Homo sapiens: one gene and its partners. The protein of the gene in region 1 interacts with the protein of each later gene in a pairwise test. Each region holds a gene or a part of one and is shown in the gene's direction. Other genes may lie near its edges. The genes, in order: EHHADH, ZBTB8A, CFL2 and DES.

Evidence for each region.
Region 2: the proteins of EHHADH (region 1) and ZBTB8A interact in binary tests that used the Homo sapiens proteins (3 or more experiments, as listed by UniProt).
Region 3: the proteins of EHHADH (region 1) and CFL2 interact in binary tests that used the Homo sapiens proteins (3 or more experiments, as listed by UniProt).
Region 4: the proteins of EHHADH (region 1) and DES interact in binary tests that used the Homo sapiens proteins (3 or more experiments, as listed by UniProt).

What each region holds. Positions count from the first base shown.
Region 1 is NC_000003.12:185,230,029-185,237,053, reverse strand, and holds part of EHHADH (peroxisomal bifunctional enzyme), read left to right. Parts: intron 1-1,591; coding exon 1,592-1,764; intron 1,765-7,025. UniProt on the Homo sapiens protein: Peroxisomal trifunctional enzyme possessing 2-enoyl-CoA hydratase, 3-hydroxyacyl-CoA dehydrogenase, and delta 3, delta 2-enoyl-CoA isomerase activities. Catalyzes two of the four reactions of the long chain fatty acids peroxisomal beta-oxidation pathway.
Region 2 is NC_000001.11:32,542,420-32,549,444, forward strand, and holds part of ZBTB8A (zinc finger and BTB domain-containing protein 8A), read left to right. Parts: intron 1-7,025. UniProt on the Homo sapiens protein: May be involved in transcriptional regulation.
Region 3 is NC_000014.9:34,711,586-34,718,472, reverse strand, and holds the start of CFL2 (cofilin-2), read left to right. Parts: upstream 1-3,879; 5' UTR 3,880-3,932; coding exon 3,933-3,935; exon of another isoform or gene 3,936-4,038; intron 4,039-4,677; exon of another isoform or gene 4,678-4,796; coding exon of another isoform or gene 4,797-4,799; intron 4,800-4,911; coding exon 4,912-5,219; intron 5,220-5,336; coding exon 5,337-5,413; intron 5,414-5,495; coding exon 5,496-5,608; 3' UTR 5,609-6,887. UniProt on the Homo sapiens protein: Controls reversibly actin polymerization and depolymerization in a pH-sensitive manner. Its F-actin depolymerization activity is regulated by association with CSPR3. It has the ability to bind G- and F-actin in a 1:1 ratio of cofilin to actin.
Region 4 is NC_000002.12:219,413,524-219,421,398, forward strand, and holds the start of DES (desmin), read left to right. Parts: upstream 1-4,853; 5' UTR 4,854-4,939; coding exon 4,940-5,517; intron 5,518-6,571; coding exon 6,572-6,632; intron 6,633-6,727; coding exon 6,728-6,823; intron 6,824-6,971; coding exon 6,972-7,133; intron 7,134-7,304; coding exon 7,305-7,430; intron 7,431-7,816; coding exon 7,817-7,875. UniProt on the Homo sapiens protein: Muscle-specific type III intermediate filament essential for proper muscular structure and function.

The sequences.
Region 1 (7,025 bases):
GGGTTTGTAGTCAAATTGCCTAAGTTTAAATCCCTATTCTACCAGTTATTAGTCATATGTCTGAAGTAGTCACTTGTCTCAAAGCATTAACTTCCTTACCTGTAAAATGGGAATTGTTATGCTGCTTAACTTAGGTGTTATGAAAATTAAATGACACAGTATATGAAACTGCTTAGCACAGTGCTTGATGCATTTATCCAATAATTGTTCATTTCTGTTATTATCTAAAAAACTATCTCAATCTAAAGCTACAGGAATGATAGGCTTGAGACTTGGATTGAAATTGATCTTGTTTCTCTAGAACCAAAAGGAATTGAAAACACGAAACAAAACACTGGACTAGAGAGTGAAATATAATGAATTGGTGAGAAAAAAGCTTAACTCCTGGATTGATGCTAGATGAGGAACAGGTAGCAAAAAGGGAAAAAAAGATGAATAGGCTAGATATAAAATAATTAATTTTTAAAACTTGTACCAAGCTTAGTGTTTTCAAAGAATAGATAATGCTGTAGGAAAAAGCTTACTATGTATAATGTTATATGAAAACAGGAAAATATAAAAATGATTTTATGGTATGCTCTAAATCAGCTGTCCTCAACCTTTTTGGTACCAGGGACTGGTTTCATGGAAGACAGTTTTTCCATGGACAGGGGTAGTGGGTGGGGGTGCAGGCCTGGGAGGGTGGGGGGGCAGGGATTGTTTTGGGATGAAACTGTTCCACCTCAGATCATCAGGCATTAGATTCTCATAAGGAGAGCGCAACCTAGATCCCTCACTTGTGCAGTTCACAATAGGGTTCACGCTCCTGTGAGAATCTAATGCCGCTACTGATCTGACAGAAGGCAGAGCTCAGGTTGTAATGCTCGCTCACACATGTGGAAAAAAACTAAGAACTCCTCAAAATATTAAATTATGGCTATATAGTGATATTTAGGGTGATCTTCATGTTCTTTTTAATTTTGCGTGGTTTTCAAATTTTCCATAATACATGTTATTTTTATAATCAGGAAAAGCAATAAATATTATTTTTATTGAAGATAAAAATCTATTACAAAAACATAATTCTAAGCTGCTTGATTAACATATAACTCATAAATATGTATACATGTTACCCTGATATTTTATATTGTGATGACTCATGCCCTTAACAAAGATATGGAGCTAAGTTGCTGTGAATAGACTTGATTAACAGTATCACACATACAAAAATGAGAGGGGCTGACTCAATCTCAGAATAATGATCTTTGGAGGAGAGTCCCTATTCCCCTTTTCTGAGATTTTTAATTTTTTTAAATATAGACTTACTACTTATTATATGGAAAGATAGATTTTAGAAAATTACAGAATTCCTGGTAAAGATTCAAGGATTTTCTCTCATAGCATTCTACATTCTCCAATATACTTGTTTTCAGCCAAGGATGAAGTGTAAGGGCCCAAAGAGGTCTGAGACTTTAGTCATCAGGAACTCTAAAAAAAATTAAGAAATAAATAAAACAAATTAATTTTTTAAAGAGTATCAGGTAACTTACTGTTATATAACAATGCCCATGTATTTCTCAACTCTGTTTTCTCCTTGTCTTTGTGCCCTTAGGTGCTGATATTCGTGGCTTCAGTGCTCCTAGGACATTTGGCCTTACACTGGGACATGTAGTAGATGAAATACAGAGAAATGAGAAGCCCGTGGTGGCAGCAATCCAAGGCATGGCTTTCGGAGGGGGACTAGAGCTGGCCCTGGGCTGTCACTATAGGATTGCCCACGCAGAGGTAACAACCAAGGCTCTATATAGTGGCTGGTGTGTGGGGCTTTTCTTTAGGGCAAACTCTAAATGTAGTCATAAGTATCAGCGGTGATTATTTTATTTATTTGTTTTTTTGAGATGGAGTCTCACTCTGTCTTCCAGGCTGGAGTGCAGTGGTGTGATCTCGGCTCACTGCAACCTCCACCTCCCGAGTTCAAGCAATTCTCCTTCCTCAGCCTCCCAAGAAGCTGGGACTACAGGCATGCTACCATGCCCAGCAAATTTTTGTATTTTTAGTAGAGACGGGGTTTCACCATGTTGGCCAGGCTGGTCTCAAACTCCTGACCTCAGGTGACCACCCACCTTGGCTTCCCAAAGTGCTGGGATTACAGGCATGAGCCACTGCACCCGGCCCAGAGGTGATAATTTTGAATGGTTAGCTTACTGGTTAACGACTTCAGCTGTTACGTGCCAGTACAGTGGTACTAATTGTTAAAATGTTCAAATACTTCACTTCCATTCTGGTAAGTAAACACCTGCTACTCTGAGCCCTAGTTTCCCTTGTTTCCCTTAACCTTAGCCCTAGGGCCTCTCTATGATCCATCAACTACAGGGGAACTCCTTGTTTCCCTTAACCTTAGCCCTAGGGCCTCTCTATGATCTTGTTTCCCTTAACCTTAGCCCTAGGGCCTCTCTCTGATCCATCAGCTACAGGGGAACTCCTTGTTTCCCTTAACCTTAGCCCTAGGGCCTCTCTATGATCTTGTTTCCCTTAACCTTAGCCCTAGGGCCTCTCTCTGATCCATCAGCTACAGGGGAACTCCTGAGTCAATAGAGAGCCCCGAGACTCTACCTCCAGTACTATGACCCATATCAGGTTTCACTGATGCAGTGCTCATGCAGTATGAGTATTAAATATGTTGGCTGTCACTTCTAAGTATACATTTAAATACTTCTTTGATAACTCAAAGATTTCTGTTTCATGGTCCCTTATAATTATCAGTACCTAATAAGACAAATTTCTATTGGAAAATAGCACAAAACTAGTAAATATGGGGAAATTTCTGGAAATAGGTTTAATTTAGGCTGTTAGACATGTCAGATGAGGTCTGTGATACCACTGTGTATCACAGTATATATAATGGTGGCATTTTTGTAATTAATATATTTTTCTAATGATGAAAATAATATTCATTCTACTAAACTAGAGAACATAAGAAAGTATACAGATGTAAACTAAAATCATCATAAACTCACAGTTCAGAAATAACCACTATTAACATTCTATTTCATTCTAGTCTTTTTTTGTATGTAATTTTTTCTTACAGATTCTTTTTCCTTTGAAAAATGTCCTTTAAAAAAAAGTACATTGGCTGGGCATGGTGGCTCATGCCTGTAATCCCAGCACTTTGGGAGGCCGAGGCAGGCAGATCACAAAGTCAGGAGATCGAGACCATCCTGGCCAACATGATGAAACCCCGTCTCTACTAAAAATACAAAAATTAGCTGGGCATGCTGGCAGGCGCCTGTAATCCCAGCTACTCGGGAGGCTGAGGCAGGAGAATCACTTGAACCTGGAAGGTGGAGGTTGCAGTAAGCTGAGATCGTGCCACTGCACTCCAGCCTGGTGACAGAGCGGGTCTCCATCTCAAAACAAACAACAACAAAAAAAACCACATTTGGGCTTTTTTTGTATTTAGTTTATACTCTATTTTTATACTATAATATTTAACCCATAATTAAATATTCTTTATTCTGCCAATCTCTGTCTTTTAATTAGAGAACTTAATACACTTATATTTAATGTAATTACTGATAAGGAAGAACATCTGCCATTTTGCTATTTGTTTTCTATGCTTTTTGGTTTTTTTGTTCAATTCCTCCATTACTGCTTTCATTTGTGTTAAATGTAAAAGTATACCCTTGTAACTTTCTTGCTGTTTCTTTTACTATATATATTTTTAGTTATTTTCTTAATGGTGGTTAACTTGGTGATTACAATTAACATCTTAATTTATGACAATGTAGTTCAGATTAATACTGACTGAATTTTAATAATATACAAAAAATTTGCTCCTCTGTAGCCTCCATTACTTGCCCCTTTATGCTATTATTGTCACAAGTTATATCTTCATACATTATGTACTGCTTAACATAGATTTATCATTGTTGCTTTACATAGTGGTCCTAAATCAGATAAGAAAAAGAGGAATTACAAATGAAAAATACATTATTACTGTCTTTTATATTTACCCATGAAGTTACTCTTTATCAGTGTTCTTTATTTCTTCATGTGAATTCAAGTTACTGTCTAGTGCCTTTTCATTACAGCCTGAAGTATTTCTTATAGGGCAAATATACTAACAACAAAATCAGTTTTTCTTTATCTGGAAATGTGTTAATTTTGCCTTCATTTTCAAAAGATAGTTTTGTTGGATATAGAATTCTTGATTGACAGTTGTTTTCTTTTGGCACTTTGTGTATGTTATTTCATGCCTTCTGGCCTCTGTGGCTGAGGAGAAATCATGTTACTCTTCTGGTAAATATTCTTTAAAAATATCATTATAGGCCAAGAACAGTGGCTCACGCCTGTAATCCCAGCACTTTGGGAGGCCAAGGCAGGCGGATCACCTGAGGTCAGGAGTTCAAGACCAGCCTGACCAACATGGAGAAATCCCGCCTCTACTAAAAATACAAAATTAGCTGGGCGTGGTAGCACATGCCTGTAATCCCAGCTACTTGGGAGGCTGAGGCAGGAGAATCACTTGAACCCAGGAGACGGAGGTTGCAGTGAGCCGAGATCGCACCATTGCACTCCAGCCTGGGCAACAAGAGCTAAACTCTGTCTCAAAAAAAAGAAAAAAAATCATTATAAGTGGCGGCATAATATTCAATCATATGGCTATACCAGAATTTATTTAACCATTTCCCAATGGTGTTTTAATTTTTATAAATGCTTACAAATAAATACACATATATGTCCTAAGTGCTCCTTTTCTGTGTCCCTCTTACCACAACCTGTACCCTGAGTGCAGATCTGAGTTACTAGCAATAAGTAAAGAGGTAGAGATGGGCAGTGATGGAAAGAATGGTGATTGACTGTTAGGAAAACCTCATGTAAGACAGGCCTCACATATGTGAGGTATTTTGGAACTGCTAGAATCACGATCTGGGTAAATGGCAGTCCGCATTTAAGTACCCTCCTCTCACCCTTATACCTGTAAATGGCTAACAGATCCTCAGCCACTTTTAAATGGAATGGGCCAAGAAAGGCAATAAAATAAAGGACTCAAGCTCCCCTTCTTGTCTGGACTGAGATTACTGTCTGACTTTAAAAAAAAAAAATAGCCTTTTGGAGATGTAATTTAAATACCATACAATTCATTCATTTAAAGTGTGCAATTCAATGGTATATGAGTATATTCTCAGAGTTGTGCAACCATTATCACAGTAAATTTTAGAACATTTTATCACCCCAAAAAGAAACCTTGTATCCTGTAGCAGTAATCCTCCATCACCTTCTGCTATCCTAAGCACCTACTAATCTACTTTCTGTCTCTATAGATTTGCCTATTCTGGATATTTCATATAAACAGAATCATACAATATGTGGTCTCCTGTGACTGGCTTTTTTTGTTTAGCATGTTTTGCCTATTCTGGATATTTCATATAAACAGAATCATACGATATGTGGTCTCCTGTGACTGGCTTTTTTTGTTTATCATGTTTTGCCTATTCTGGATATTTCATATAAACAGAATCATATGATATGTGGTCTCCTGTGACTGGCTTTTTTTGTTTATCATGTTTTGCCTATTCTGGATATTTCATATAAACAGAATCATATGATATGTGGTCTCCTGTGACTGGCTTTTTTTGTTTATCATGTTTTGCCTATTCTGGATATTTCATATAAACAGAATCATATGATATGTGGTCTCCTGTGACTGGCTTTTTTTGTTTATCATGTTTTGCCTATTCTGGATATTTCATATAAACAGAATCATATGATATGTGGTCTCCTGTGACTGGCTTTTTTTGTTTATCATGTTTTGCCTATTCTGGATATTTCATATAAACAGAATCATATGATATGTGGTCTCCTGTGACTGGCTTTTTTTGTTTATCATGTTTTGCCTATTCTGGATATTTCATATAAACAGAATCATATGATATGTGGTCTCCTGTGACTGGCTTTTTTTGTTTATCATGTTTTGCCTATTCTGGATATTTCATATAAACAGAATCATATGATATGTGGTCTCCTGTGACTGGCTTTTTTTGTTTATCATGTTTTGCCTATTCTGGATATTTCATATAAACAGAATCATATGATATGTGGTCTCCTGTGACTGGCTTTTTTTGTTTATCATGTTTTGCCTATTCTGGATATTTCATATAAACAGAATCATACGATATGTGGTCTCCTGTGACTGGCTTTTTTTGTTTATCATGTTTTGCCTATTCTGGATATTTCATATAAACAGAATCATATGATATGTGGTCTCCTGTGACTGGCTTTTTTTGTTTATCATGTTTTGCCTATTCTGGATATTTCATATAAACAGAATCATATGATATGTGGTCTCCTGTGACTGGCTTTTTTTGTTTATCATGTTTTGCCTATTCTGGATATTTCATATAAACAGAATCATACGATATGTGGTCTCCTGTGACTGGCTTTTTTTGTTTAGCATGTTTTGCCTATTCTGGATATTTCATATAAACAGAATCATATGATATGTGGTCTCCTGTGACTGGCTTTTTTTGTTTAGCATGTTTTCAATGTTCATCCACGTTGTAGCATGAATCAGTTCTTTATTGATTTTGCTGAATAATATTCCATTGTATGGATGTACTACCTTTCATTTATCCACTAATCATTGATGGACATTTGGGTTGCTTCTACTTTTTTGGCTTTTATGAACCATGGTGCCATGAAAATCTGTATACAGGATTTTTGTGGGCATATGTTTTCATTTCTCTTGGGTATATACCCAGGAATGGATTTGATGGGTCATATGGTAACTCTATGTTTAACATTTAAGAAGCTGCCAGATTGTTTTCCAAAGTGTCTACTCTGTTTTATATTCCCACTAGCAATGTATGAGGATTCTGTATTCTCCATATCCTCTCCAACACCTGTTATTGTCTGTCGTTTTTTAAATAGCCATCTTAGTGGGTATAAAGTGTTACCTTGTGGTTTTGATTTGTATTCCTCTGATGGCTAATGATGTTGAGCATCTTTTCAAGTGCTTACTGGCCATTTGTATCTCTTCTTTGGAG
Region 2 (7,025 bases), on another chromosome or scaffold:
TACAAAAATTAGCACACAGTGGCAGGCACCTGTAATCACAACTACTCGGGAGGCTGAAGCAGGAGAATCACTTGAACCTGGGAGGCAGAGGTTGCAGTAAACCGAGATTGCGCCACTGCACTCTAGCCTGGGCGACAGAGCAAGACTCCGTCTCAAAAAAAGAGAGTTGATCTTCTCAACGACAACCTTAGTTCAAGTTACACTCGCTACTTAAATCTTCAGTCTACTCATAGAAATACATGTCATTGGCTTCTATTCCAAAGACTTTCGAACTTAATGGTTCCTAAAATGTGTAATTGTCTTTCCCAACCACCTTTTTAAAGATCATTGAACTTGATGGAAATCTTGAATTCTGTTATATTCTTGGGACTATTATAATATTTAACTCTTACAGATATTTAAAATGTTTCCATTTGGATTTTGGATGTCCCATATAAATTGATCTAACTTGCTGTTTCAACGTATAAAGTCACTCTACTGAAAGAAGAAAATCTGAAATGCATTACCGATTTCCATGACCTAATCACATAATTCTGAAAATAACTTAAACCTTTTTTGATGACTCAAGAGTACTACTATGAATGCATGTTATGTTAAAATCCTTTCAATGTGAATATCAGGTTGTAACTGACCCCAGTGTATAGGACAATTCCTATTTTTTTTTTAGATATAACTTTTTTTGAGACGGAGTTTCACTCTTGTTGCCCAGGCTGGAGTGCAATGGTGTGATCTGGGCTCACTGCAACCTCCGCCTCCCAGGGTCAAGCAATTCTCCTACCTCAGCCTCTCAAGCAGCTGGGATTACAGGCACCTGCCACCATGCCCGGCTAATTTTTTGTATTTTTAGTAGAGACGGGGTTTCACCATGTTGGTCAGGCTGGTCTCAAACTCCTGACCTCAGGTGATCCACCCGCCTCAGCTTCCCAAAGTGCTGGGATTACAGGTGTGAGCCACTGCGCCTGGCCTGAGATATAACTCTTACGCCATAAAATTTACCCATTTTAAAGTGTACAATTCAGTTTTTTGATATGGTCACAAAATTGTGCAACCATCATGACCCTCTTAACTCCAGAACATTTTCATCATTTGCATAAAGAAACCCCATGCCTGTTAACAGTCACTCCTATTCCCATGTCTCCCTAGCTCCTGATAACCCCTCATCTACTTCCTATGTGGATCTACCCATTCTGGGCATTTCATGTGAATAAAATCATAAATAAAATATGTATTTTTTATGACTAGTTTCTGTAACTTAGCATCAGGTTTTTTGTTTTTTAGACAAAGTCTCGTTCTGTCACCCAGGCTGGAGTGCAATGGCGCGATCTCGGCTCACTGCAAGCTCCGCCTCCTGGGTTCACGCCATTCTCCTGCCTCAGCCTCCCGAGTAGCTGGGATTACAGGCACCTGCCACCATGCCCGGCTAATTTTTTGTATTTTTAGTAGAGACAGGGTTTCACCGTGTTCGCCAGGATGGTCTCGGTCTCCTGACCTCATGATCCGCCCGCCTCGGCCTCCCAAGGTGCTGGGATTACAGGCATGAGCCACCACACCCAGACTTGTTTGTTTTTTAGAGACAGGATCTCACTGTCACCCATACTGGATTGTGGTGGCGTAATCCTGGCTCACTACATCCTTGACCTCCTGGGCTCAACCAGTCCTCTGCCTCAGTCTCCCAAGTAGCTGGGACTACAGGCTCACGCCACCGTTCCCAGCCAGCATGAGGTTTTTAAGGTTCACCCATGTTGTAGTATATACAGTCATATGTCACTTAATGATGGGGATATGTTCTGAGAAATGTGTTGTTAGGTGATTTTTGTTGTTGTGTGAACATCATAGAATGTACTTACACAAACCTGGCTGATATAGCCTACTACACGCCTAGGCTGTATGGTATAGCCTATGGCTCCTAGGCTACAATCCTGTATAGCATAATACTATAGGCATTTGTAAAACAATGGTAAGTATTTGTGTATCTAAACATATCTAAACACAGGAAAGCTGGGCACAGTGGCTCACGCCTGTAATCCCAGCACTTTGGGAGCCCAAGGTGGGTGGATCACCGAGGTCAGGAGTTCAAGACAAGCCTGGCCAACATGGCAAAACCCCGTCTCCACTAAAAGTACAAAAATTAGCCAGGCATGGCGGTGGGTGCCTGTAATCCCGGCTACTCAGGAGGCTGAGGCAGGAGAACTGCTTTAACCCAGGAGGCGAAGGTTGCAGTGACCTGAGATGGTGCTACTGCACTCCAGCCTGGGGGATAGAGCAAGACTTTGTCTACAAAAATAAATAAACAAATAAATAAACACAGGAAAGGTACAATAAAAATATGGTATTATAATCTTATGGGACCACCGTCGTATATGTAGTCAGTTGTTGACCAAAATGTTATGCGGCGCGTGACCATATCAGTACTTCATTCTTTTTATGGCCGAGTTACATTCCATTGTATGGGTATACCACATTTTGTTTACCCACCTGTCCGTCAGTGGACATTTGGATTGTTTCCACCTCTTAGCTGTTGCAAATAATGCTATTATAAACATTCGTGTATCAGTTTCTGTGTAGACGTATGTGTTCATTACTCTTGAATATATACCTAGGAGTGAAATTGCTGGGTCATATGATAACTCCATGTTTAATCATTTGAGGAACTCCCAGACTGTTTTCCAAAGTCGCTGTACCATTTTATATTTCCACCAGCAGTGTGTGAAGGTTCTTACTTATCTATACTCTGGCCAACACTTAGTATTTTCATGTTTTTTAAAAAATTATTATATCTCTGGAAAAACATGGAAAAAAAAGAAAATATAGAAAAAGAAGAAGAAAAAAATTTTAAAAAATTATTGTAGCAAACTATCCTAGTGGGTGTGAGGTAGTATCTCATTGTGATTTTGATTTGCATTTCTCTAATGATTAATGATGCTAAACATCTCTTCATGTGCTTATTTCTATTTGTCTTATTTAATCTTATTTATTTTAGCGATTATCTTATTTAATCCTCTTAACAGACTTCCTTAGAGCCTCTAAACAGTCAATAACCTCATTTTACAAAAAGGAAACGAATGCTTAGAGTTAAGTAACTTGACAAAGTCACACAGCTAATGATTGGTAGACCTATAATCCTGTGTTTCTTCTTTTTAAAATCCTTCAGAAGTGCCTCAGAACCCCCAAAACTGGAGGGGCTTCCAAGATCTAGCTCTTACATACTTTTCTAGTTTCATCTTCTGCCATCCTTCTGTAGGCCCACAGTCTCTAGCTATAGCAAACTTCTTACCATCCCCTAGGAGGCCATGCTGTTTAATACGCTGTTTTTGCCTTCCCATTTGGTGCTCTCTCTGGCTAGAACGCCTTTTGCCCTCTTTCTCATGTATAAACTTCTTTTCATCCTTCAAGACCCAACCTAAACGTTGAGCCTTTTGGAAATGTTTCTCAATACTACCAGGTACAATCATTTGCTTTCTTTGTTTTACAGTTCCCTTCTACTATGAGTATTTTCTTCATTGTATTGTCACTTTGTCTAGAAGTCTCTTCTCTTCCTGTCTCTTCTCTGACTCTCTCTCTCTCCTACTAGACAGTGAGCTGCTTGAAAGTGAGCACTGACCTTTGACATTTCATCACCTCTATATTCTCAGGACCAGGTATAGTCTGGTATAGAGTAGTTGCTCAATAAATATGTCTTGAATAAAATGCGTTTCACCTGCCAATTTGAGTATCTGCCCTTCTCATAAAAATAGAGTAAAAGGGCCACATACAGTGGCTCACACGTGTAATCCCAGCACTTTGGGAGGCCAAGGCGGGCAGATCACTTGAGGCCAGGAGTTTGAGACCAGCCTGGCCAACATGGCGAAACCCTGTCTCTGTTAAAAATATAATAATTAGCCAGGTGTGGTGGTGCGTGCCTGTAATCCCAGCTACTCAGGAGGCTGAGGCATGAGAATCACTTGAACCCAGGAGTGGCAGGTTGCAGTGAGCCAAGATCATGCCACTGCACTCCAGCCTGGGTAACAGAGTGAGACTCTGTCTCAAAAAAAAAAATAAATAAATAAATAAAAGATTTTTCTGTTAAAATATAGAAAGAGCCAGACATGGTGGTACACTGTTATAGTCCCACCTATGTGGGAGACTGAAGCAGGATCACTTGAGCCCCGGAGGCCAAGGCTGCAGTGAGCCAAGATCGTACCACTGCACTCCAGGCTGGTGGGACCTTGTCTCAAGAATTTAAAAAAGGAAAATATACTTCTGTGGAGTTCAGAACAATGTAAAATTAATGATTGTATCAAAAGATGAAGTTGTTTTCTTTCGGCTGTTTTTCTGACCCTTCAGAAAACCTCCATTGCTTTGAATCCTGTGGCTCTCAGCAGCATGTGAAACACGGAGGGCATAGCGGATGCCTTATATCACCTTCAGTTCCCTCTGTCTCCCTGGCGCTGTTGGACTAGGTCCAACATAAAATTCTTACAGTTCCAGAATATCTGGGGGAAGTTTTTTGTTTTTGTTTTTGAGACAGGGTCTTGCCCTGTTGCCCAGGCTGGAGTGCAGTGGCACAATCACAGCTCACTGCAGCCTCAGCCTCTCAGGCTCAAGTGATCCTCCCACCTCAGCCTACTGAGTAGCTGGGACCACAGGCATATACTACCACACACCTGGCTAATTTTTTAATTATTTGTAGAGATGAGGTCTCGCCATGTTGCCCAGGCTGGTCTCGAACTCCTGGGCTCAAGTGATCCTCCTGCCTGGGCCTTCCAAAGTGCTAGGATTATAGATATGAGCTACCATGCCCGGCTGGGGGAAGTTTTATTCCAAAATCTGCAATGTATTTTTCATCACCAGAAGATACCTCAGCAAACCAAACTAAGCCATAATTTTATCCATGACTTTTTAAATATATACATTAGAGTAGTATTCTAAGTATAAACAAATTTTCTTTTCTTTCTTTTTTTTTTTTTTTAGTAGAGATGGAGTCTTGCCCTGTTGCCCAGGCTAGAGTGCAGTGGCATGAGCATTGCTCACTGCAGCCTCGAACTCCTGGGCTCAAGGGATCTTCCCTCCTGCCTTAGCCTCCTGAGTAGCTGGGACTACAGGTTCGAGCCACTGTACTCAGCAACATTAAAACATAAACTTTTAGGTTGCAAATCTTATTTTAGGTTATAGATCTCATTCTCAGGCCACTGCACTCCAGCCTGAGTGACAGAGCAAGTCTGTATCTCAAAAAAAAAAAAAAAAAGAAAGAAAAAAAGGCAAAAATGGTTTCTCAAGAATAATTTGGCACACACTTGTATTCAGAAGGCTGAGGTGGGAGGATCACCTGAGCCCGGGGAGGTCAAGGCTGCAGTGAGCTGTGATCTCACCACTGCACTCCAGCCTGAGCAACAGAGAAAGATTCTGTCTAAAACAAAAAACAAACAAAGCAAAAAAAAAAAAAAAAAAAAAAAGACCAGGCGCAGTGGCTCACACTTGTAATCCCAGCACTTTGGGAGGCCGAGGCAGGTGGATCATGAGGTCAGGAGTTCGAGACCAGCCTGGTCAAAACAGTGAAACCCCCATCTCTACTAAAAATGCAAGAATTAGCTGGGCATGGTGGCCGGCACCTGTAATCCCAGCTACTTAGGAGGCTGAGACAGTAGAATCACTTGAACCCGGGAGGTAGAGGTTGCAGTGAGCCGAGATTGCACCACTGCACTCCAGCTTGGGCGACAGAGCTAGACTCCGTCTCAAATTAAAAAAAAAAAAAAAAAAAAAAAAAGAATAATCCTTCCTTAAGGTGAGGTCTGCAATTGACTAGTTGGAGTCGAGGGTTGCTATTCCCAGGTACACATGTAGTTTTGAAATGATCGCTCTCACTCTCTCTAGGTACATGAATATGATGAAACCAGTCAAAAAACATTTTTTTTTTCTGTATCCACATTTTTTGTTTTTGTTTTTGTTTTTGTTTTGAGACAGAGTCTCACTCAGCCGCCCAGGCTGGAGTGGAGTGGTGCAATCTCGGCTCACTGCAACCACCGTCTCCAGGGTTCAAGCGATTCTCCCGTCTCAGCCTCCTAAGTAGCTGGGATTACAGGCACCCGCCATCATGCCCGGCTAATTTTTGTATTTTAGTAGAGATGGGGTTTTGCCATGTTGGCCAGGCTGGTCTTGAACTCCTGACCTCAGGTGATAAACCCGCCTCAGCTTCCCAAAGTGCTAGGATTACAGGCGTGAGCCTCCTTTCTGTATCCCCATTTGTATAAGACAAGAAAATGTGTGGCAATAAAACTCTAAAATGTTTACATTTTGTACTCATTGAAAGCAGTGTTTTTAAATGTTTAGATAATTAATAATAATAATAATAGCTGACATTTATCAAGGGCTTGTTATAAGCCAGGCACTGTTATAAGCACGTTTCTTGGATTAGCTTCTAATATTCTCCATCTCGCAGCTCTGTAAGCTATAGGTATTATTATTGTCCCTGTATTAGTCCATGCTCTCATTGATAAAAAGAAATACCTGGCCGGGGCCAGGCACCGTGGCTCATGCCTGTAATCCCAGCACTTTGGGAGGCTGAGGCAGGCCGATCATGAGGTCAGGAGTTTGAGACCAGCCTAGCCAATATGGTGAAACTTCATCTCTACTGAAAATACAAAAATTAGCCGGGTATGGTGGCCCGCACCTGTAGTCCTAGCTACTCCAGAGGCAGAGACAGAATCGCTTGAACCCGGGAGGCAGAGGTTGCCATGAGCCGAGATCACGTCACTGCACTGCAACCTGGAGGGCAGAGTCAGACTCTGTCTCAAAACAAAACAAAACAAAACACCTCGCTGGGTGCTGTGGCTCATGCCTGTAATCCCAGCACTTTGGGAGGCCGAGGCGGGCGGATCACCTGAGGTCAGTAGTTCGAGACCAGCCTGGTCAACATGGTGAAACCCTGTCTCTACTAAAAATATAAAAATTAGCCACGCATGGTGGGATGTTCCTGTAATCCCGGCTACTTGGGGGGCTGAGGCAGGAGAATCGCTTGAACCCAAGAGGTAGAGGTTGCGGTGAGCCAA
Region 3 (6,887 bases), on another chromosome or scaffold:
GGGTTAGGAAGGATATGTCAGAGTTAGGAAGGCATGTCGGTAGAAAGGTACATTTTGAAGTGGTAGTGTCTTTATGCTTACATTTGTCTTTGTCAGGAAGTGGCTGTGGGAGCTGAGAATGTGATGTCTCTTGACAGGGAGTAGGGCTTACACACAGTTTGTCTGCATAATCTTCCAGATTCACTGTTTTAGATAGTTCTTTCAAACTTTTACATGCCACAGAACCTCCATCCACATTGTTTCTCAGGTGTGGTGGCTCATGCCTGTAATTCCAGCACTTTAGGAGGCCAAGGCGGGAGGACTGCTTGAGCCCAGAAGTTGAGACCAGCCTGGGCAACATAGTAAGACCCCCATCTCTGTAAGTGAGTAAGTAAATATATACATAATAGATTGTTTCTTGGGGGAATAGATTATATATATTAAGGGATGATCACCTTTCCAATTTTTTAAAGAATCCTGAGTAAACAAACTTTAGCTGAGTCTTCAGAATCAATGAGGATTGGGACGGCTTCACGCTATTGCCTATGAGTTGATAAAATCAGTGCCTTCATCTTCACTCTGCTGGTGGTAATAACAGCTCCAGGGTTCCTATTTCTGTGCTGGACAAGGGCTTTACATACATTATCTCTCTTGATCCTCCCCATAATCCTGAGAGGGAAGAGGTCATATAATCCCTATTTTACACATGATTTGGAAACTGAGCCTTATGGCAGCTAAATCAATGGCCTGAAATTGCACCGCTACTAGTGTCTGAGCTGAGATTACATTCAGAGGTTACTCTCACTAAGTTCCTAATAGTTGTCACTGCCATCTATGTGTGGTCTAGTAAATGGATAATTATAGCTTAGATGTTTACAGCACAAAAGTATCTAGTACCACATTGTTCGGGGTCCCTCTGTCACACCTATTAATTGTTTGCTTGAGCTTGAAATTGCTCAGAACAGTTGTATGGTAGGCAGAATAATGCAACCCCTCCTCACAAAGGTGTTCCTGTCCTAACCTCCAAAGTCTTTGAATGTTAACTTGTACGAAAAAACAGACTTTGCAGATGTGATTAAGTTAAGGATCTTGAGAGGGGGAATTATCCTAAACTACCAAGTGGGGTCCAAAGTAACCATAATGGTCCTTATAAGTGGAAGACGGAGGCAGGAGAGAGAGAGTCAGAGGAAATGTGATGACTGAGGCAGAGGTCAGAGTGATGCGACTGCTGCCTGGGGCCACAGGCCAAAGATGATGGGCAGGTCGAGTGTGGTGGCTCGCACCTGTAATCCCAGCACTTTGGGAGGCCAAGGTGGGCGGATCACAAGGTCAGGAGATCAAGACCATCCTCGCTAACACGGTGAAACCCCATCTCTACTAAAAATACAAAAAATTAGCCGGGCATGGTGGCGGGTGCCTGTAGTCCCAGCTACTCAGGAGGCTAAGGCAGGAGAATGGTGTGAACCCAGGAGGCGGAGTTTGCAGTGAGCCGAGATAGCACCACTGCACTCCAGCCTGGGTGACAGAGTGAGACTCCATCTCAAAAAAAAAAAAAAAAAATGATGGGCAGCCTCTAGATGTTGGAAAAGGCAAAGGAGTCTCCCACTACAGTCTCTTGACTTTAGCCCCATCAGGCTTATTTCTGCTAGTTGTGGTGGTTCATGCCTGTAATCCCAACTACTCGGGAGGCTGAGGCAGGAGGCTCACTTGAGGCCAGGAGTATGAGGCTGCAGTGAGCTATGATCACATCCTGCACTCCAGCAACCTGGGTGGGCAACAGAACCAGAGACTATCTCTTAAATATATATATATAGAGAGAGAGACTTGTTTCTCTGACTCTGTAAGACCATAAATAATAAATTTGTGTTGTTTTAAACAAGTAATTTTATGGTAATTTGTTATAGCAACAGTCGAACGCTAATACATGTGGTATCTGACACTCAGATCCCCCTCCACTACACAGTGACCAAAATTCATGCAGCAATGATTGGCAATGCTGCCCCTTTACCAAGTGGTGGTAAGTTCTGGTTATAACTCACAGAGGTGAAGGCAGGAAGCTGCTACTGGCCCTGACATTCTCAGTGCCATGCTCACAAGGGCATGTAGAAAGGCTTCACAATTTTCAGAAGCTTCCTTTTCATTCTCTTTACAGCACTAAAGCATCTTAAATGTATTATTTCAGCACCTATTAAGCACCTACTATCTGTCAGGTTCCAGAAATTCAAAGATAACCAGGACTCAGATCCTTAAGGAGCTTACAGCGCAGTAGGGTGGCAGAAGACATAAACAAGTTATTATAATGTAACAAAATATATGCAAGACAAAAATAACTTCAGGAAAAGAATCTTAGAACATGTGAATTACCATCTCTGTTTGGGGAGGGTAAGAGAGAATGGGAGGCATGGAAAGGGGTTGGAGTCCGAGCTAGGGGGTGACTAGCATCTTTGGAATCCCCAGCTTTGGTGGGTAAGGTTCTGACACCCACTTTAGGCCCCAGTGTCATCAGACCTGGTCTCTGCTGGGGCTGCTGCAAATCTCTGAGGTTGGGAAGGGAAGGTAACCGCAAGATGAAGCGAACAGGAATTTGCTAATACCTACACATAGCAGATGATCAGAGCTCTGGAGAGACATTCTCCATGACTTCTTGGAAGTTCAACAGATAAAGTGAAAGGTTCCATAAATTGTAATGTACCAGCTAGATATAAAGTATTATCCACTTGCTTGGGATTCATGCTTAGACATTGGGAAATCCCTTCTCAATTTTTGTCTCTAAACGAAGTCTATCTTCCAATTAAGAAAACAAACCCAAGATATAGACAGAAAAATAGGTCTGTTTCAATGCCTAGCATGTTCCATTTAAAATACAGTAAATTTGGGCTGAAAGAACTTATCACGCAATCTAGGGCAAACACCATCTCATGACTTTCCTGCCTAACCTCAATCCTGAGACCACCAAAAACACACCATTTCCTACTGAACATTGATATACTCAGAAACTGAAATCTAAAGCTGGAAAGGGCCTTAACGATAATTTAATAACAGTTTGTTTTACACATGAAGAACCCTGAGGTATGGAGGAGTTAAGATTAAAAAAAGAGAAACTGCCTTGGCGCAGTTATATGGGCTTTGCTAGAAGAGGCTGCGTCGGCTTATTTGATATCAGCTGTCATAGCTGGAGCTTCATGAAATCTCTAAGAGAGAGTACAATCCATTTCCTATGAAGTCTAAAATGTAAAAGGATATTACTAAGGAATGCTACCACGTAATTTTTTAATCATAATTATTATTTCAACCAGAGTTTTGAAAAGTGATTTACCAACACTGCGTATCATTTTGTTTTTGCTAAGTACTATCAACTGGAGCAATCTCGTGTAGTATTTATTCTCATTTATCTCTAAACAACTGGGGGTTTTCCAAAAAGACTCAAAATGTCGAAATCCAGCCTCTTTCGGGAAAACCACAGGTAAATAAGGAAAGACACCTTCGCAGGAGTTCCCCTCACACGCACCCACCCCTGGCGCAGGGCCCTACGGAGGCGGTGGAAACGCCCCTCTGGGAGCCCAGCACTCTCTCCCACCGGCTTGACGGGTGATGCTCGGGGGCTGGAGGCGGCTCTGCCAGGCTCCCGGGCTCCGCTACCACCGCGTCGCCCCCCCCGGCCTGCAGGGCTCGCGCTCTGAGGTCAGGCCGAGGACGCGGACAGCCGGGGAGCCGGGGCCGCGAGACAGAAGGGCCGGCCTGGGAGCGGGTGGCGCCGGCTGGGGACCAGGCGTGCCCACGTGACCGCCCCGCCCGCTGCCTGCGGCCCGCCGAGCCCCGCCACCTCCCTCGGGCTGCAGCTCCCGGCGTGCCCCGCACTCTCCGCTGCCCACCCGCTCGCCCGCCCCTCCTTCTCCTCCCAGTGCCACAGAGCCGAAGCCCGAGCTGCCGCCGCAGCCACAGCCGAGGGCACTATGGTAAGACGAGCGCGCTGGCCGGGAGGCCGCGGCGAGGCGAGAAAAGCCCCCCGCACGGCCCCGGGAGTGAGGCCGCCATTTTAACCTGATTTTGGCCTCCAAGGTGGGCGCTTCTGCTCTGCGGCTCCGCTGCTCTCCAGCCGACCGGCCTGCCCTCCGGCCGTCAGGCCCTGCCCTGCTGCTCTTTGGATTTTGGGGGGCGGGGAGGGCCCGGGCGTCGGCGCAGGTTGGGGGTCGGGGCCGGGCGGGCGGGGGCGCGAGAGGGTCTGCGGACTGCAGCCGCTCGCGCCGCCTTTGCCCTTCGCTTCCTAATTTTACTTAACACGCGAGGCTTTAAAATTGGTACGTGCTGCGAACGCTGTGTGGGTCAGGGTCTGGACGGCCTGTAATAAAACCCTTACGGGGAGATTAAGGAAGAGGGAAAACACTTTTTAAAATGCTTTCTCGCCGTAAAAGCTTTTACACTCGATCAGTTAGTTTTGGAGTGTCTGCATGTGAGCTGTGTGTGGGCCGTGGGCGGTTTGGAGTTTACACTTGATTCTCTTTCCTTATGAGGAAACGTCAGTGGCTAGGATGACTTTAAAGAAAAAAATAGTAGAAGCATTAACTGAAATCCAAAAGTGTTTTTTTAAGGCCAGCCGAGTTGACACAATACAGAAGGTATTTTTGCTGCCACTCCTGAAGCTCTGACATCACCCAGTGAAATAGGAAACATTTCAGGGATGGGACAACTTGTATTTGTCCCTTTCGCTTCCACGTCCAAACCCCTTTAAGAAGGATGAATGGGCAGGATGAGTTAGACTCCTTCGCTGTATCGTCTACTGATTCTTAAAATGTGACAAATCTGATTGGACGACTTACATGGTACGGTGCAATTTTTGATGTCCAGACTAAAGTGAGTCTTCTCTAGGCAAACAGTAATTTTGGTTAAAACCAAAATACGTGTTCTGAATTACTGTTCTGTGTTTATTTTCAGGCTTCTGGAGTTACAGTGAATGATGAAGTCATCAAAGTTTTTAATGATATGAAAGTAAGGAAATCTTCTACACAAGAGGAGATCAAAAAGAGAAAGAAAGCAGTTCTCTTCTGTTTAAGCGATGACAAAAGACAAATAATTGTAGAGGAAGCAAAGCAGATCTTGGTGGGTGACATTGGTGATACTGTAGAGGACCCCTACACATCTTTTGTGAAGTTGCTACCTCTGAATGATTGCCGATATGCTTTGTACGATGCCACATACGAAACAAAAGAGTCTAAGAAAGAAGACCTAGTATTTATATTCTGGTGTGTAAAAACAAAAGAAAAAAGTACTTTTAAAATGCAAGGATTATTATTATCATAGTCAGTCTTACCTTTGTTTTTCTTATAAATGGGATTCAATAATTTTTTTTTTTTCTGTAGGGCTCCTGAAAGTGCACCTTTAAAAAGCAAGATGATTTATGCTAGCTCTAAAGATGCCATTAAAAAGAAATTTACAGGTACAAACTTGAATATTTGGGGCAGAGAAATTATTCTTTATTAATTATAATAAAGTAATAGGATAATGTTTTTTCTTTTTAGGTATTAAACATGAGTGGCAAGTAAATGGCTTGGATGATATTAAGGACCGTTCGACACTTGGAGAGAAATTGGGAGGCAATGTAGTAGTTTCACTTGAAGGAAAACCATTATAAAATGACAGTCAAGTGCCATCTGGATCTTAAGGAGCTTCCATTTCTCCAGCTCAGTCCATTGGAATAGTATTAGGTTTTGGTTTTTTGTTGTATTTCCCCCTTTCCACTGGGCCCTTCCAACACAATGAATGAAGGAAATATCATTTATTTAAGCAGCCTATCAGTGATTGCCATTAGACTGTTGAATACTGTTACTTTTATATAGAACCCAAGGAATGCCTTCCTGTCATATTTTAGCCAAAACAACTGGTTATATGCCTCCCTTGCAGCAAGCACTACAATGTATGTGATCGTCAATGTGAATAGCTTAGAATACTGCAAAGGATAAGCTAATTGAATGCCTTGAAAGTATTATCCACTGGTCAGATGGTCAACTTTTTTCAGTATTATTTATAGTTGGCACTTGATTGCAGTTCTGTGAGGCTTGAGCATTCATACACCTCACCTGCCTTGGCAAGCCTATTTTAGTGATATGGCAGCACGGATATAACACTATGCATTAAAAGCACTTTTTGTAATAAGTTTAATATCCTAAAAGGAATGCCAATTAAGTTTTGTTAACTGTGTCATCAACTTATCCTAGTACCTCAGTGTTCATTCCTGTTACCTGCATATCTTCTTAAAAGAAATAGCTGTTATTAATGCCTTTTTGTTTTCCATTGAGTGTACACTACTGAATAAGTGTAGGAGTTTTATGTTTACCATGTGAGTCCTGCAACACTAAAGATATTTTGAATATCAGTCATGATGGCAATTTCTGTATAAAAGAGCCTTAAATGGAACATTGTTTTGAGATCAAACTCCCCACCCTCACAAAAATGGCCACGTTGCAATAAAAATTGTGGCATATTACAGAACGTTGCCTTGTTTTCCTTGGAAATTTTGCAAAATGTTATGTGAAACAACTTCTAGGGTAAAAACAGCTATTACTAATCTCTGCACTGGTCATTTGAGAATTTTTTTTGTACAGCATTCATGTGTGATATTTTCCAGATTTGTTGGATCTATTTGGTTTAAAAAGTATTCTATCTTAAGGCCAACTAATATAAAATACCATTGTTAAAGAATGGTACTTTTATAAACATTAGTGTATTTATTTCCTATGTGTTAATATGAAGATCAGAAATTATTTTTTGCACTTTGGCATAAATACTTTTCAATATCTGATTTGTTCTCTGGATAAATTAGCATAGTTATTTTTTTATTCACATTTACATTTCTAAGTAGTTGTATAGTAGAAGCAGGAAGCTCTTATTGCTTATTTGGTCGTAATGAAAAT
Region 4 (7,875 bases), on another chromosome or scaffold:
AGTGAGCTATGATGGCACCACTGTAATCCAGCCTGGGTAACAGAGCAAGACCCTGTTTCAACAACAACAACAACAACAAACAGACATGATACCTAAACATAAGAGCTAAAATATAAAATTCTTAGAAGAAAACAAAGAGGAAAATCTTCATGACATTGGATTTGGCGATGATTTATTGAATATGACACCAAAAGCATAGGCAATAAAATAAAAAATAGATAAATAGGACTTGATCACAATTACAAACTTTTGTTCATCAAAGGACATTATCAACAGAGTGAAAAGGCAAACCACAGAATGGGAGAAAATATTTGCAAATCATATATCTGATAAGGGATTAATATCCAGAGTATATAAAGAACTCCTGCAACTCAACAACAAAAAATCCCCAAACAACCCAATTCAAAAATGGGCAAAGGATTTGAAGACATTTTGCCAAAGAAGATATACAGATTACCAGTAAGCGCATGAAAAGATGCTCAACATCACTGATCATTAGGGAAACGCAAATCAAAACCACAATGAGCAGCCAGGTGTGGTGGCTTGCTTCCATAATCCCAGCACTTTAGGAGACTGAGGCAGGAAGATCGCTTGAGACCAGGAGTTTAAGTCCTCAGTGAGGTATGATCATGCCATTGCACTCCAGCCTGGGCAACAGAGTGAGACCCTATCTTTAAAAAATGAAATAAGGCTGGGTGTGGAGGCTTACAACTATAATCCCAGCACTGTGAGAGGCTGAGGTGGAAACATCACTTGACCCCAGGAATTTGAGACCAGCCTGGGCAACATAGGTTTGGAGACCTCATCTCTATGGAAAAGTAAAAAAACTAGCCAGGTATGGTGGCTTGCACCTGTAGTCCTAGGTACTTGGGAGGCTGAGGCAGGAGGATCACTTCAGTCCAGGAATTTGAGGCTGCAGTGAGTGATGATCGTGCCATTGCACTCCAGCCTGCGTGACAGAGGCCCTGTCTCTAAAAAACAAAACAAAACAAACAAACCACAATGAGGTACCACCTCACATCCATTAGGAAGGCTACTATTAATATTATAAAACAAATAAACAAATAGAAAATAGCAAGTGTTAGCCAGGATGTGGAGAAATTGGAACCCATGTTCACTGCTGGTAGCAATGTAAAACAGTGCAGCTGCTGCGGAAAACAGCATGGCAGTTCCTCAAAAATTTAGACATAGCATTACCATATAACATAGCAGTTCCACTTCTGAGTATCTACAGAAAAGAACTGAACATAAGTATTTGAACAGATATTTGTACACCAAAGTTCATAGCGACATTATTCACAATAACCAAAAGTTGGAAACAACCCAAATATTCATCAACAGATAAACAAAGTGTGGTGTATACATACAATGGAATATTATTTAGCCTTAAAAAGAAAGGAAATTCTGACCCATGTCACAACATGGATGAACCTTGAAGACGTTATGCTAAGGGAAGTAAGCCAGTCACAAAAGGACAAATATGGTATGATTCCACTTGCATGAAGTACCTAGAGTCAAATTCGTAGAAACGGAAAGTAGAATGATGTTTACCAGGGGCTGGGAGGAGGGGAAGGTGGAGGGTTATTTTTAATACATATGGAGTTTCAGCTTGGGACAATGAAAAAGTTCTGCAGATGGATGGTGGGGATAGTTGTACAACAATGTGAATGTACTTGACGCCACTGAACTGTATACTTAAAAAATGGCTCAAATGGTGAATTTTATTTTATGTATATTTTATCACAATGTAAAAGTGACTCAGCTGTCAATGTACTAAAATGGAACCATCTCTAAGCTGTATGTCATTGAAAAAAGATTGATTCAGAAGTGGGGGCTCCACATAAGAAAATGTGGTTGTGTGTACATGAAGTATCTCTGAAAGGAACCGATAACAACCAAAACCTGGTTGTCTCTGAAGCAGTGTTTGGGGTGGCTGGGTGTCAAAGTGGGAAGGAGACTTACTTTTCATTTTATGCCTTTTTGCACATCTTGAATTTTGTACCATATACACTACCCATCCAAATAAATTGTCGGTATTTTTAGTGTGTCCCATCCTGAGTGGTCCTCTCGGGAGGCTGAACTCTCCCTCCAGCGGTGCTGCCCAGCTCACAGCATGTTTTGGAGTGCTCCTCTTTCACCTGCCTTCCAAGCCTCGGGGTGTTGATTTGCAGCCCTCCATGGTAGCAAATCCTCAGGGGTGGAACTGAATTTTGAAAACAGTCCCAAGTGGTTCGGGGCCAAGTCTGGTGGTTGTTGATTTTGACTAGAGAATAGATGGCATGATTTATTTGTCTTCTGCCTCTTTTCACCAAGGAACTGAGGACTTGGGCTGGTCCAAAGGCCAATTTCCTTATGTGGTCTGGAGATCATTCACAGAGAAGAGCTCCAGAAATGTTGTCCCAGTAGCATCATAGAAATAGGTGTAGAGTCCCCTTCAGGAAGATTAATCTGGTTCTTTGGGCTGTAAGTGATCAAAGCAATACCAAGTGCCTTAAATTAAAAAAAAAAAAAAAAAAAAAAACGGAAAGTTTGTTGGCCCAAGGCCAGGAAGGACAGTGTGGGAGCTCAACTCACAAAGTTGAGGGAAGCACTGCAGGAACCAAGGGGCTGGCCTGCTCCTCCTCTCCAGCCTCCTCTGCTTCTTACATATTGACCTCTCTTTCTTCCTACTCCCCCAGGGGGCAGGAAACATGGCTTCCACAGGTTCCAGTTGAAGAATCCCAGTTCCGTCTATAAATTCCAGGGAAGGTCTCTGATTGGCCCTGCTCATTCCCAGGCCCATTCCTTGACCCAGTCACTGAAGTCAGGGAGATGCAGTAATAAGACTGGCTGGAATCAGGGTCTTTAGGGGTGGAGGGATGGGGAGGAGGCACAGCATGTCATCAAAATAAGGAAATTGCAAAAGAAAGCTTGCAGGCTACTTTGAATGACAATGAGAAAGACGGTGCTGCCTGAGTGTGTTAAGGATCCACATGGTCTCCAAAATCCTCCAGGAGCATACAGTCTAGTCTGGGAGATGAGACACAAAAATAACCAGAACACAACAGCTTGCACTGACTCGAGGGCTGGATAAGAATATCTGGAACTCCCCCATCTATTTCAGAAGCTTGTCTCTTGGATGAAAATTAGACACTTAATGGGAAAGGGCTTTGAAAAGAGTGCAGTAACAAAGCCCCCTTTACAATTTACCCGGCACATTCACACCCATCCTGAGGCCAAAGCCACAGGCTGTGAGGTCTCACTGTCTCAGCTTCCTGAGCTATAAAATGGGAATGATGCTAGTGTCTACCTCCTAGGGTTGGAGAATTGGGGGTCATGGGTGTGAAGTGCTCAGCAGCTTGGCCCACACTAGGTGGTCAGTACATGTAAGGTATTATTGTTGCTACATACATTAGTAGGGCCTGGGCCTCTTTAAACCTTTATAGGGTAGCATGGCAAGGCTAACCATCCTCACTTTATATCTGACAAGCTGGGGCTCAGAGAGGACGTGCCTGAGCTGGGGCTCAGACAAGGACACACCTACTAGTAACCCCTCCAGCTGGTGATGGCAGGTCTAGGGTAGGACCAGTGACTGGCTCCTAATCGAGCACTCTATTTTCAGGGTTTGCATTCCAAAAGGGTCAGGTCCAAGAGGGACCTGGAGTGCCAAGTGGAGGTGTAGAGGCACGGCCAGTACCCATGGAGAATGGTGGATGTCCTTAGGGGTTAGCAAGTGCCGTGTGCTAAGGAGGGGGCTTTGGAGGTTGGGCAGGCCCTCTGTGGGGCTCCATTTTTGTGGGGGTGGGGGCTGGAGCATTATAGGGGGTGGGAAGTGATTGGGGCTGTCACCCTAGCCTTCCTTATCTGACGCCCACCCATGCCTCCTCAGGTACCCCCTGCCCCCCACAGCTCCTCTCCTGTGCCTTGTTTCCCAGCCATGCGTTCTCCTCTATAAATACCCGCTCTGGTATTTGGGGTTGGCAGCTGTTGCTGCCAGGGAGATGGTTGGGTTGACATGCGGCTCCTGACAAAACACAAACCCCTGGTGTGTGTGGGCGTGGGTGGTGTGAGTAGGGGGATGAATCAGGGAGGGGGCGGGGGACCCAGGGGGCAGGAGCCACACAAAGTCTGTGCGGGGGTGGGAGCGCACATAGCAATTGGAAACTGAAAGCTTATCAGACCCTTTCTGGAAATCAGCCCACTGTTTATAAACTTGAGGCCCCACCCTCGACAGTACCGGGGAGGAAGAGGGCCTGCACTAGTCCAGAGGGAAACTGAGGCTCAGGGCTAGCTCGCCCATAGACATACATGGCAGGCAGGCTTTGGCCAGGATCCCTCCGCCTGCCAGGCGTCTCCCTGCCCTCCCTTCCTGCCTAGAGACCCCCACCCTCAAGCCTGGCTGGTCTTTGCCTGAGACCCAAACCTCTTCGACTTCAAGAGAATATTTAGGAACAAGGTGGTTTAGGGCCTTTCCTGGGAACAGGCCTTGACCCTTTAAGAAATGACCCAAAGTCTCTCCTTGACCAAAAAGGGGACCCTCAAACTAAAGGGAAGCCTCTCTTCTGCTGTCTCCCCTGACCCCACTCCCCCCCACCCCAGGACGAGGAGATAACCAGGGCTGAAAGAGGCCCGCCTGGGGGCTGCAGACATGCTTGCTGCCTGCCCTGGCGAAGGATTGGCAGGCTTGCCCGTCACAGGACCCCCGCTGGCTGACTCAGGGGCGCAGGCCTCTTGCGGGGGAGCTGGCCTCCCCGCCCCCACGGCCACGGGCCGCCCTTTCCTGGCAGGACAGCGGGATCTTGCAGCTGTCAGGGGAGGGGAGGCGGGGGCTGATGTCAGGAGGGATACAAATAGTGCCGACGGCTGGGGGCCCTGTCTCCCCTCGCCGCATCCACTCTCCGGCCGGCCGCCTGCCCGCCGCCTCCTCCGTGCGCCCGCCAGCCTCGCCCGCGCCGTCACCATGAGCCAGGCCTACTCGTCCAGCCAGCGCGTGTCCTCCTACCGCCGCACCTTCGGCGGGGCCCCGGGCTTCCCACTCGGCTCCCCGCTGAGTTCGCCCGTGTTCCCGCGGGCGGGTTTCGGCTCTAAGGGCTCCTCCAGCTCGGTGACGTCCCGCGTGTACCAGGTGTCGCGCACGTCGGGCGGGGCCGGGGGCCTGGGGTCGCTGCGGGCCAGCCGGCTGGGGACCACCCGCACGCCCTCCTCCTACGGCGCAGGCGAGCTGCTGGACTTCTCACTGGCCGACGCGGTGAACCAGGAGTTTCTGACCACGCGCACCAACGAGAAGGTGGAGCTGCAGGAGCTCAATGACCGCTTCGCCAACTACATCGAGAAGGTGCGCTTCCTGGAGCAGCAGAACGCGGCGCTCGCCGCCGAAGTGAACCGGCTCAAGGGCCGCGAGCCGACGCGAGTGGCCGAGCTCTACGAGGAGGAGCTGCGGGAGCTGCGGCGCCAGGTGGAGGTGCTCACTAACCAGCGCGCGCGCGTCGACGTCGAGCGCGACAACCTGCTCGACGACCTGCAGCGGCTCAAGGCCAAGTGAGGGCCCGGCACCCCAGACTCCTCTTTCTGCGGGCAGGGCACAGGAGGCTAGGCCTGGGGTCTGGGGTCCCGCTGTCAGCACCTGCCTTCTCCCGGGGCCCGGGACCCTCTCCTGCCCCATGTGGAGAAAGGGTCCTCCACCTGTGTGTTTCAAGGGGCCGTGACCTCCAGGTCTCTCCCCCTGCGATCCCATCTTGCACAGGAGTTTTCTTGGGGACATAGATCAGGGGGTGGATATGGGAGAATTTAGGGGACCCGGTGCCCTGTGGACAGCCCCGTTAAAAAGCATTTTAAGATGCTGGGGCGATATTTATGGGGTCAGGTAGTTGATGGGCAGAGGAAGGGCTGCAGGAGGCCCAGAGGGCAGTGTAGCCAGAGGGAGAAGGGAGGCTGATAGGAGACAGGGAAAGCAGGGCAAGGGCCCAGAGTCCAAGCAACAGCTCTCAGCTCAGCTGTGATGAGGCCCTGGGGGAGGTGGGGGGAGGGGGGAGCTTGGCCCTGGGGCCTTGCCGAGACTGTGTCTTTTTACAAGGTGAATGGACAGGCTGGAGAAAAAGGGAGTAGGTGGGGGTCACAGCTCTCAGAGAGCTTGGGAGGACCTGACTGTAGACTTCACCAGGCTCCAAGAACGAAAAGGGCAGCAAGTGTAGCATATTTGTTGGTCCCACTTCTGACAGGCCAAGTGAGCACAGTCACCCTCCTGCCACCAAAGTCATAAATATTAATTGAGCAGCTATATTGGCCAGGCTGGAGCTGGGAACCAGAAACACAGAGGTGGATAAAATAGACACAGTTTCTAACCCCAGGGAGGTCACACAGTCTGGTGGGGACATAGACTTCAAGGGTGTGGCTCCTGGGCAGAGATTGGGCCACTTCCTGTGCCCTCCCTGGGTGGGTGGGGCCTCTCCACTCCCTGTCTCTCCTGCCTCTACCCAGCAGCCAGGCCCTCCCGCTCTGTCCTGGACCCACCCCCTGGTCAGCCCCCGGCCAGTCGTTTCCACTGCCAGCTTTATCACCCGCAACTGTCTGTCTTTCTGTCTGTCCCACCCAGGCTGCAGGAGGAGATTCAGTTGAAGGAAGAAGCAGAGAACAATTTGGCTGCCTTCCGAGCGGTGAGTGCCCTTCTTTTCCCCTTGCATGGCCTCTGGCCTTGCTCTGCCCCACCTGGGTGGCGGTGACCATGTCCTTCTCGCTTGGCCTCTCCCAGGACGTGGATGCAGCTACTCTAGCTCGCATTGACCTGGAGCGCAGAATTGAATCTCTCAACGAGGAGATCGCGTTCCTTAAGAAAGTGCATGAAGAGGTATACCTTGGCCCCTCTTCCTGGGGTCACTGGGCCATGGGGAAAGCAGCCGGAAAGTGGGGTTGGGGTGAGGCTCTGGCTGGGAATAGGGGTGTGAGGGTGCTGTGTGGGCCCTGAGAGGGGACTGAAGCCCAGTCATGCCCTACAGGAGATCCGTGAGTTGCAGGCTCAGCTTCAGGAACAGCAGGTCCAGGTGGAGATGGACATGTCTAAGCCAGACCTCACTGCCGCCCTCAGGGACATCCGGGCTCAGTATGAGACCATCGCGGCTAAGAACATTTCTGAAGCTGAGGAGTGGTACAAGTCGAAGGTGGGTGGCCTCGCCCGGGGACTGGCATCTCCGTCCCCCTGAATCCCAGCTTGGATGTGCTGCCTGTGGTACCATCCATGGGAGGAGAGCCCAGAGGCTTCATGCTCCCTTGCTCATCCCTACCCGTGCCCTGCATCCTTCTCATTTTTGGGCCCCTTTCTCTGCCCTTAGGTGTCAGACCTGACCCAGGCAGCCAACAAGAACAACGACGCCCTGCGCCAGGCCAAGCAGGAGATGATGGAATACCGACACCAGATCCAGTCCTACACCTGCGAGATTGACGCCCTGAAGGGCACTGTGAGTCCCTGCCCACCTGGCCAGGCCCTGCCCCTTCCTGTCTGCAGTTCACACCCTCACTTTGTGACCTTGGGCCCATCATAGATCCTCTCTGGGCCTTCATCTACTTAAATCTACAATAGGGGTAAAACCAGACAAGTGGATTCCAGTTGGATGCTAAGGAATCAGGGGTTCCTGGGCATCTACCTATGTGGGGACTGTGAGGCTGAATGCAATGTTCCTTTGTATCTATTTTATTCTGAGTGTTCACATATAGACTTAATTTGAGTTCAGGGTTCAACATGGCCTGGACCTGACCATCTGGAGTTGCCTGCCAGCCCCAAAGCTTTCTTTGGGCTGCTAGTGTCCTCTTCCCTTCCTTGACCTGGGTTCCCCCTCTCCTGCAGAACGATTCCCTGATGAGGCAGATGCGGGAATTGGAGGACCGATTTGCCAGTGAGGCCAG